Homo sapiens: one gene and its partner. The protein of the gene in region 2 interacts with the protein of the main gene of each other region in a biochemical or structural test. Each region holds a gene or a part of one and is shown on either strand. Other genes may lie near its edges. The genes, in order: SGK1 and WNK4.

Evidence for each region.
Region 1: of the proteins of WNK4 (region 2) and SGK1, one has a biochemical effect on the other in vitro, tested with the Homo sapiens proteins (one study listed by BioGRID).

The regions. Positions count from the first base shown.
Region 1 is NC_000006.12:134,258,949-134,262,770, forward strand, and holds part of SGK1 (serine/threonine-protein kinase Sgk1), read right to left. Parts: intron 3,201-3,822; coding exon 2,985-3,200; intron 1-2,984. UniProt on the Homo sapiens protein: Serine/threonine-protein kinase which is involved in the regulation of a wide variety of ion channels, membrane transporters, cellular enzymes, transcription factors, neuronal excitability, cell growth, proliferation, survival, migration and apoptosis.
Region 2 is NC_000017.11:42,790,509-42,794,308, forward strand, and holds part of WNK4 (serine/threonine-protein kinase WNK4), read left to right. Parts: intron 1-3,083; coding exon 3,084-3,221; intron 3,222-3,800. UniProt on the Homo sapiens protein: Serine/threonine-protein kinase component of the WNK4-SPAK/OSR1 kinase cascade, which acts as a key regulator of ion transport in the distal nephron and blood pressure.

The DNA of each region.
Region 1 (3,822 bases), on a different chromosome or scaffold from region 2:
CTACACTCTAGCCTGGGCAGTAGAGCAAAACCTTGTCTCAAAAAAAAAGTAATAAAATAAAGTATGTGTCATTTTGATTTGTGATAACCTTAGGAAAAAGCCAGCAAAGTCTGGGAACCAGGTAATCGATTGCAAATTGGAGAATGATTTACCTGCTATCTAAGATAAAGGAAAAGGGTAAATCACAATGTTGCTTTAAATTCCTTTCAGCTTTGTTTATTGTTTCCTTTTGTGTGGAATTTCACTGTTGCATTGATTTAAACCCAGCTCCTATCAAATGGGACATAGAGTAGGCCCTCAAGTAAACATTTAGCACTAGGCATGTGTGCTCTGTATAGGATATGTAGAACCCTCTCTCTGCTTCTAAGTCATAAATAGTTCTTTAGAGTCTAAGAAATTGGCAAACTCAGGCTGGGCGCAGTGGCTCAGGCCTGTAATACCAGCATTTTGGGAGGCTGAGGCAGGCAGATCACTTGAGGTCCGGAGTTCAAGACCAGCCTGGCCAACATGGTGAAACCCCATCTCTACTAAAAAAAAAAAAAAAAATTACCCGGGTGTGGTGTCAGATGCCTGTAATCCCGGCTACTCAGGAGGCTGAGGCAGGAGAATTGCTTGAACCTGGGAGGTGGAGGTTGCAGTGAGCTGAGATCTCGTCACTGCACTCCAACCTGGGAGAGCTGTGTCCATTCATTTACATATTATCTATGGCTGCTTTCCCTAGAAGGGCAGAGCTAAATAGAAGTTAGAGACTGTATTTTAGGCAAAGGCTAAAATATTTACTATCTGGCCGTTTAGATAAAAAGTTGACTCTATCCCTTGCATCAGGAGCGATAAATAGATGCTCTTGCATTTAGCGTCTTTATTGTTTTTCATGACAAACCTAGAGTTGAACCAACATCTGGCTAAAAAGCAAATGCACCATGACAAATGTTCATGGATCAGCAAAGTGCTAACCCAGTTATGGAAGTCTAATATAGTGTTACAGAGTCACAGGCTTAGCTAATATGTAAATCAGCAAACATGAGCAATAATGATTTATATTTGCATGGCATTCTATAGATTATGAAACATTTCATATCAATCTCATTTGATTTTTCCAATAACCGTAGAAAGTAGACAAGTAGGCTGGGCATTGTGCCTCATACCTATAATCCCAGCATTTTGGGAGGATCACTTGAAGCCAGGAGTTCAAGACCAGCCTGGTCAGTATGACAACACCCTGTTTCTACAAAAAAAATTTTTTTTTTTTAATTAGCCAGGTTTGTTGGCGTATGCCTGTGGTCTTATTTACTTGGGAGGGTTGAGGTGGGAGGATCACTTGAACCTAGGAGTTTGAGGTAACAGTGAGTTATGATTGCACTACTGCACTCAAGTCAGGGTTACAGAGCAAGACTCTGTCCCCCTGTCTCCCTGTCCCCGACCCCCACCCCCCCCAAAAAAAGGGCCGGCGTAGTGGCTCATGCCTGTAATCCCAGCAATTTGGAAAGCCGACGCAGGTGGATTACCTGAGGTTGGGAGTTTGACACCAGCCTGACCAACATAGAGAAACCCTGTTTCTATTAAAAATACAAAAATTAGCCAGGCGTGGTGTTGGGTGCCTGTAATCCCAGCTACTCGGGAGACTGAGGCAGAAGAATTACTTGAACTCAGGAAGCGGAGGTTGCAGTGAGCCGAGATCGTGCCATTGCACTCCAGTCTGGGCAACAAGAGTGAAACTCAAAAAAAAAAAAAAAAGAAAGAAAGAAAGTAGACAAATTATGAAACAGATTCAGCGACATTGCGTGATAACTCAGAGTGAAAAGGAACTCAGATTTAATGTCTTCAGTCTTTTAGCAGCTAAATGATTATTTTATCTCTGGAAAATGGTTACCTTGCTAAAAATAAAAAAGGTGAGCGGTTATTAACGTTTATCATTCTATGATGCACTGACTTGGAAGATCACTTACAATTAACTGTACTTTGTAATAACATGTTCTGTCTTCTAAATATTGTATTTTTATGTCAGTATGATGGTAAAAATAATATAAGCATTTTATATAATGGTTTTAAAAATCAAAATAAATATGGGCCTAATTAAGTTATAAGTTAAAAATATAATCTTAAATTTTTGAAATCTTAGAAACTGCAAGATGAATCAGTTATCTGGTTTTCTTGGATTAACAAAATTTTTAAAAAACAACTCTTGGAGTAGCAGGGAAAATAAGTCTTAGTAAAAATGTGAGTATATATGAGCTTGAGAAAAATAATGAAAAGTATACATAGTGCTCTGTAAATGGATCAAATCGTGTTGAACTAAATATTTCAATGGAAGCTACGAACATGTAGATGACTATTACAATCGTTGTATCATCTAAGACTTGATCTCCTGTGTGATCAAACCACTTCTGAGGAATTGCCAGTTTACCAACACATTGCTGTATCAGTCTTGGACCCACGTAAAACATTAATACAACATACTGCATGATTCAGCTAGATGACATTCTGGAAAAGGCAAATCTATGGAGACAGTAAAAAGATCAGTGGTTGCTAGGGGTCAGGGTAAGGAGGGGATGAATAGTGGAGGGCAGAGGATTTTTAGGGCAGTGAAACTTAACTGTATGATACTGTAATGGTGGATGCATGTTATTATACATTAGTCCAAACCCATAGAATGTATAACACCAAGAGTGAACTCTAACATAAAACTCTGCTAGGGAATGTTGATGGCAAAGTAGGTTATACGTGCATGGGGACAAGCGTATATGGGTAATCTCTGTACCTTCTGCTCAATGTTGCTGTGAACTTAAAGCTGCTCTAAAATATAAAGCCTACTTTAAAAAAATAACATAATGAGCTAACAAAGACCACAATTCTAGGTCTTCCTCAGAAGCTTTATAAATATGCATTAAAAAATTATTTTTTGGGTATACTCTGGCAGAAATACAAGAAAAACAAAGGCCCAGAATTTTTCCAGGAGAATAGATCCAGAGCGAACATGAACTTACTTCACACCCAGATTGAGTTTCCCATGAACATGACTCGTTCTCCTGAGGGAGAACCCCTCTTTGGAAAGCATGTTCACCCAGGCATGTTTGACACAAGGAAGACTCGAAGTCTGGCTCCCCTGGAGGGATGTGCACCATGGAGGAGCCGGTGTACTTCAGGCTGGGACTCTGATGCTTGTCCACACTGACCATTGGGCTCTTGATCCACCTTCGTACCTGCAATGTGCAAAAGGAAAGAAAAAACAAATGTGTTTGACTCCCTTTGATGTTTATTGGGGATTTGGTGGGAAATCTGGTGGGATGGGAGCTCATGAAAGGAGAACTCGGTCTCACAACCTGTCTATCTTTCAAACTCAACACAATTCGAATTGGTCAATGCTGTTCAGTCTCTTTCCTAGAGTATGCATTACATGGCTGGTCATTTCATCTTGCTGAGTCTGTCTCCGCATTTTTTTTTCACATTATTTTTTTCTTTTCTTTTTCCTCCTGCTTCCAGTGGGGTTAGAATTTTTTTCTTTTTAGAGATAGGGGGGTTTCACTCTGTTGCCCAGGCTGGTCTTGGTGTTAAAAGATCCTCCTGGACCAGCCTGCCAACATGATGAAACCCCATCTCTACTAAAAATACCAAAATTAGCCAGGCCTGGTGGTACACGCCTATAATCTCAGCTGCTTGGGAGAATCGCTTGAACCTGGGAAGCGGAGGTTGCAGTGAGCTGAGATAGCCCCGCTGCACTCCAGCCTGGGTGACAGAGCAAGACTGTCTCCAACCACAACAACAACACAACAACAACAAACCCTCAAAACCCAAAAACAAACAAAAACAATTACCCTGGCCAGG
Region 2 (3,800 bases):
GGAGTAGTCAGTACAGAGTTGAGAGTGAAGGGAGATGAGCCGGCAAAGCCAGAGACACAGAGGGTTGCAGAGTGTGTCTCAGCGCATACCACCAGTTCTGGAGTGGGAAGCGGGAGGGTAGGTCATCGAAGGACACAGAGACAAAGCCAGAGACGTAGGAGGATGTTAGTCAAAACTGAGTGAGGAGAGAGTTTCAAGGAGGTGGCATAGGATGAATCCTCAGGCAAGACCACACTGGCTTTTGTTAGGAGATCTTTGTGGGAGACCAGTTTCAGTGGAGTGGGGGTGGTGGATGCCAGCCCATGGGGTGAAGGAGGGAAAGGAATGGGAGAAACACCAGGCATCAGGAGCCCTCTCTAAAGCATCTCCTCCATCATGTCATTCACCTTGTGTCCAGGACAAAGACACAATATCACCTGGCACACAAGGCTCATCACCTTCCGTCAAACCACTTGACTCTTTCAGAGTCTTCCATCCAGCCACACTGGTTTCAAAATGGGCCTCTGAAAAGGCTGGGTGCCTTCCTGCCTCTGCCTCCACCTCCTTAAGGGTCTCTCACTCGTAGAGCCTTCTGTATTGGGCTTTCAAGTCCCCTCTGATCCTGCACAGCCAAAGTGACCCCACCCCATGCACCCAGAGTCCTTTGCCCTCTTTTCTCTCCTTACCCAGTCCACCCTCCACTCCTCTGCAGCAGAATTCTCCTGAGACTTGGATCTGATCTCTTGATATTCACCCGAAATTATTTAGTGGCTACTTGTGGTTGTAGAGTAAGGTCCAAATTCCAAAGCCTTTAAAATTCACAGCACATTCAGCTACACTTGAGTCCTCACTATTTTAAGAATAGGCTGTGCCGGGCATGGTGGCTCACGCCTGTAATCCCAGCACTTTGGGAGGCCGAGGCAGGCAGATGACCTGAGGTCGGGAGTTCAAGACCAGCCTGACCAACATGGAGAAACCCCGTCTCTACTAAAAAATACAAAATTAGCTGGGCGTGGTGGCGCATGCCTGTAATCCCAGCTACTTGGGAGGCTGAGGCAGGAGAATCACTTGAACCCAGGAGGTGGAGGTTGCGGTGAGCCACGGTCATACCATTGCACTCCAGCCTGGGCAACAAGAGCGAAACTCTGTCTCAAAAAAAAAAAAAGAAGAAAGAAAGAAAGATTGAATAGGCCGGGCGCAGTGGCTCACACTTGTAATCCCAGCACTTTTGGGAGGCTGAGGCAGGTAGATCACTTGAGGTCAGGAGTTCGAGACCAGCCTGGCCAACATGAAGCCCTGTCTCTACTAAAAATATAAAAATTAGCTGGGCATGGTGCCAGGCAGTCCCAGCTACTCAAGAGGCTGATGCAGGAGAATCTCTTGAACCCAGAAGGTGAGGTTGCAGTGAGCCAAGATTGTGCCACTGCACTCCAGCCTGGGTGATAGAGCAAGGCTCAGTCTCAAAAAAAAAAAAAAATAATAATGTACCATGCCTTTCATGCTTCAAAGCTACTACACTGTTCTCTCTGCCTAGACTGCTCTTCTCTTCCTGATGAACAGCCTGGAATAGAGGAAGGGGTCGCTTTCATGTAATACCTAAGTTCAAACTTCAGCTCTGTTATTTACTAATCCAATGAACTTAGGCAAGTTTCTTAACTCTGTAAACTTCAGTTGCATGTAAGTAAAATGCAGATGATAGTATTTGTTTTGCAAAGATGTTCTGATACGACACAGTGTAATGTAGAAGTGTCCACACATGGTAGGTCCTCAATAGAGATTGCTTTTCTCATCTGTCAATGTTCAGCTCCAAAGACTTACTCTGTGAAACTGCTCCAGCTTCCCCCTATCCCCAGGGTGGTATTCTGTCTTTGGAATAGCATTTTAAAAAATTGTGATTAAAAAACCATAAATATAAAATTTACCACCGTAACCATTTTTAAGTGTACAGTTCAGCAATATTAAGTATATTCACATTGCTGTGAAACAGATCTCCAGGGGTTTTCTTACCTTGCAAATCTGAAACTCTGTACCCATTAAACAACTCTGCCTCTCCACACCCCCATCCCCCCAACCCTGGAACAACATTTCTATCTATATCTCACTTGTAAGTGCCTTACGTATTACGGGCTGCCTTGCAGTAAGTTTAATTACGTATTTATGTGTCTCCTCCACTAAGTTTTGGGCTTCGTTAAGCCTAGGACCTTGTTTCATGCTTCCTTGTATTCCCACAGTACCCAGCACAATGCCAGCACATAGTAGGTGCTCAATAAGTATTCATGGATTTGAATGTGACATTTGCCATTTATTGCCTTATTCTGACTTAACCGTGTGGGATGGGTGTATGTGGGCCTGTGTGTTATACTTTATAAACACTATGGGGCAGAAATTGTGTCCAAAACATGGGAGGCAGCAGTGAAGATAACTCAGGCTCTGGCTTTAGGTAGATGTGGGTTTAAATCCTGTGACCTTAGGCAGACGGAACTTAACCTCTTTGAGCATTGGTTATCTTAATTCTACCATAGCAATATTAATGTGGGCCCCAGAAAGTTACTGGTGGTGTTAAATGTGATAATATACGCAAAGCAGCTGGTATATATACGCATCCTATGAATGTTAGCACCTTTCCTTCTAGGCTGTATTTCTCCTTACACCACACAGTGCCTGGAACACAATAGGTATTTACTTGTTTTAGGTTGGTGGTTGGCAGGAGCAGTAGTGTGAAGGGTGGATTTTTTATTTTTATTTTTTTGAGACGGAGTCTCGCTCAGTCGTCCAGGCTGGAGTGCGGTGGTGTGATCTTGGCTCCACCGTTTCCCAGGTTCAAGTGATTCTCCCGTCTTAGCCTCCCAAGTAGCTGGGATTACAGGTGCCCGCCATCATGCCCAGCTAATTTTTGTATTTTAGTAGAGATAGGGTATCACCATGTTGGCCAGGCTGGTCTTAAACTCCTGACTTCAGGTGATCCGCCCGCCTCGGCCTCCCAAAGTGCTAGGATTACAGGCGTGAGCCACCGCGCCCAGCCTGATGTTTTAAGATCAGAAGCAGGGGGAGAGGGATGAGTGAGATAACAAGCTCTCCCTCCCCATCCTGTTGACCCTCGCAAGGTATATAACGAGTTCATTCTGCCTTCGGAGCGAGATGGATTTCTCAGACGGATTCGGGAGATTATCCAGCGAGTGGAGACCCTGTTGAAGAGAGACACTGGCCCCATGGAGGCTGCTGAAGACACCCTAAGCCCCCAGGTCAGACCCCTTGGTGGACACTTCCAGGGGAAATGGACTCTCTGCTCCAGGGTTTATTACTCTCTGCCCTCAGCGGTCCCCTTGGATTTAACTCCTCTTCATCTCTGGGACCCTAAAACAGTGGCGCTTTTTTTTTTTTTTGAGATGGAGTCTCACTCTGTCGCCCAGGCTGGAGTGCAGTGGCACGATCTCGGCTCACTGCAAGCTCCGCCTCCCGGGTTCACGCCATTCTCCTGTCCCAGCCTCCCGAGTAGCTGGGACTACAGGCGCTCGCCACCACACCCGGCTAATTTTTTTTGTATTTTTAGTAGAGACAGGGTTTCACCGTGTTAGCCAGGCTGGTCTCGATCTCCTGACCTCGTGATCCGCCCTCCTCGGCCTCCCAAAGTGCTGGGATTACAGGTGTGAGCCACCGTGCCTGGCCTAAAACAGTGGCTCTTAGCCCATTTGAGAATATGATGAAAGCCATGGACTCTTGTTCTAGAAAACTTGTTCAATACATACTTTTCTTTTAACTCATTATTTTGAAATAATTTCAGACTTGTGGAGAGAAGTTGCAAGAATTATATAAAGAACCAC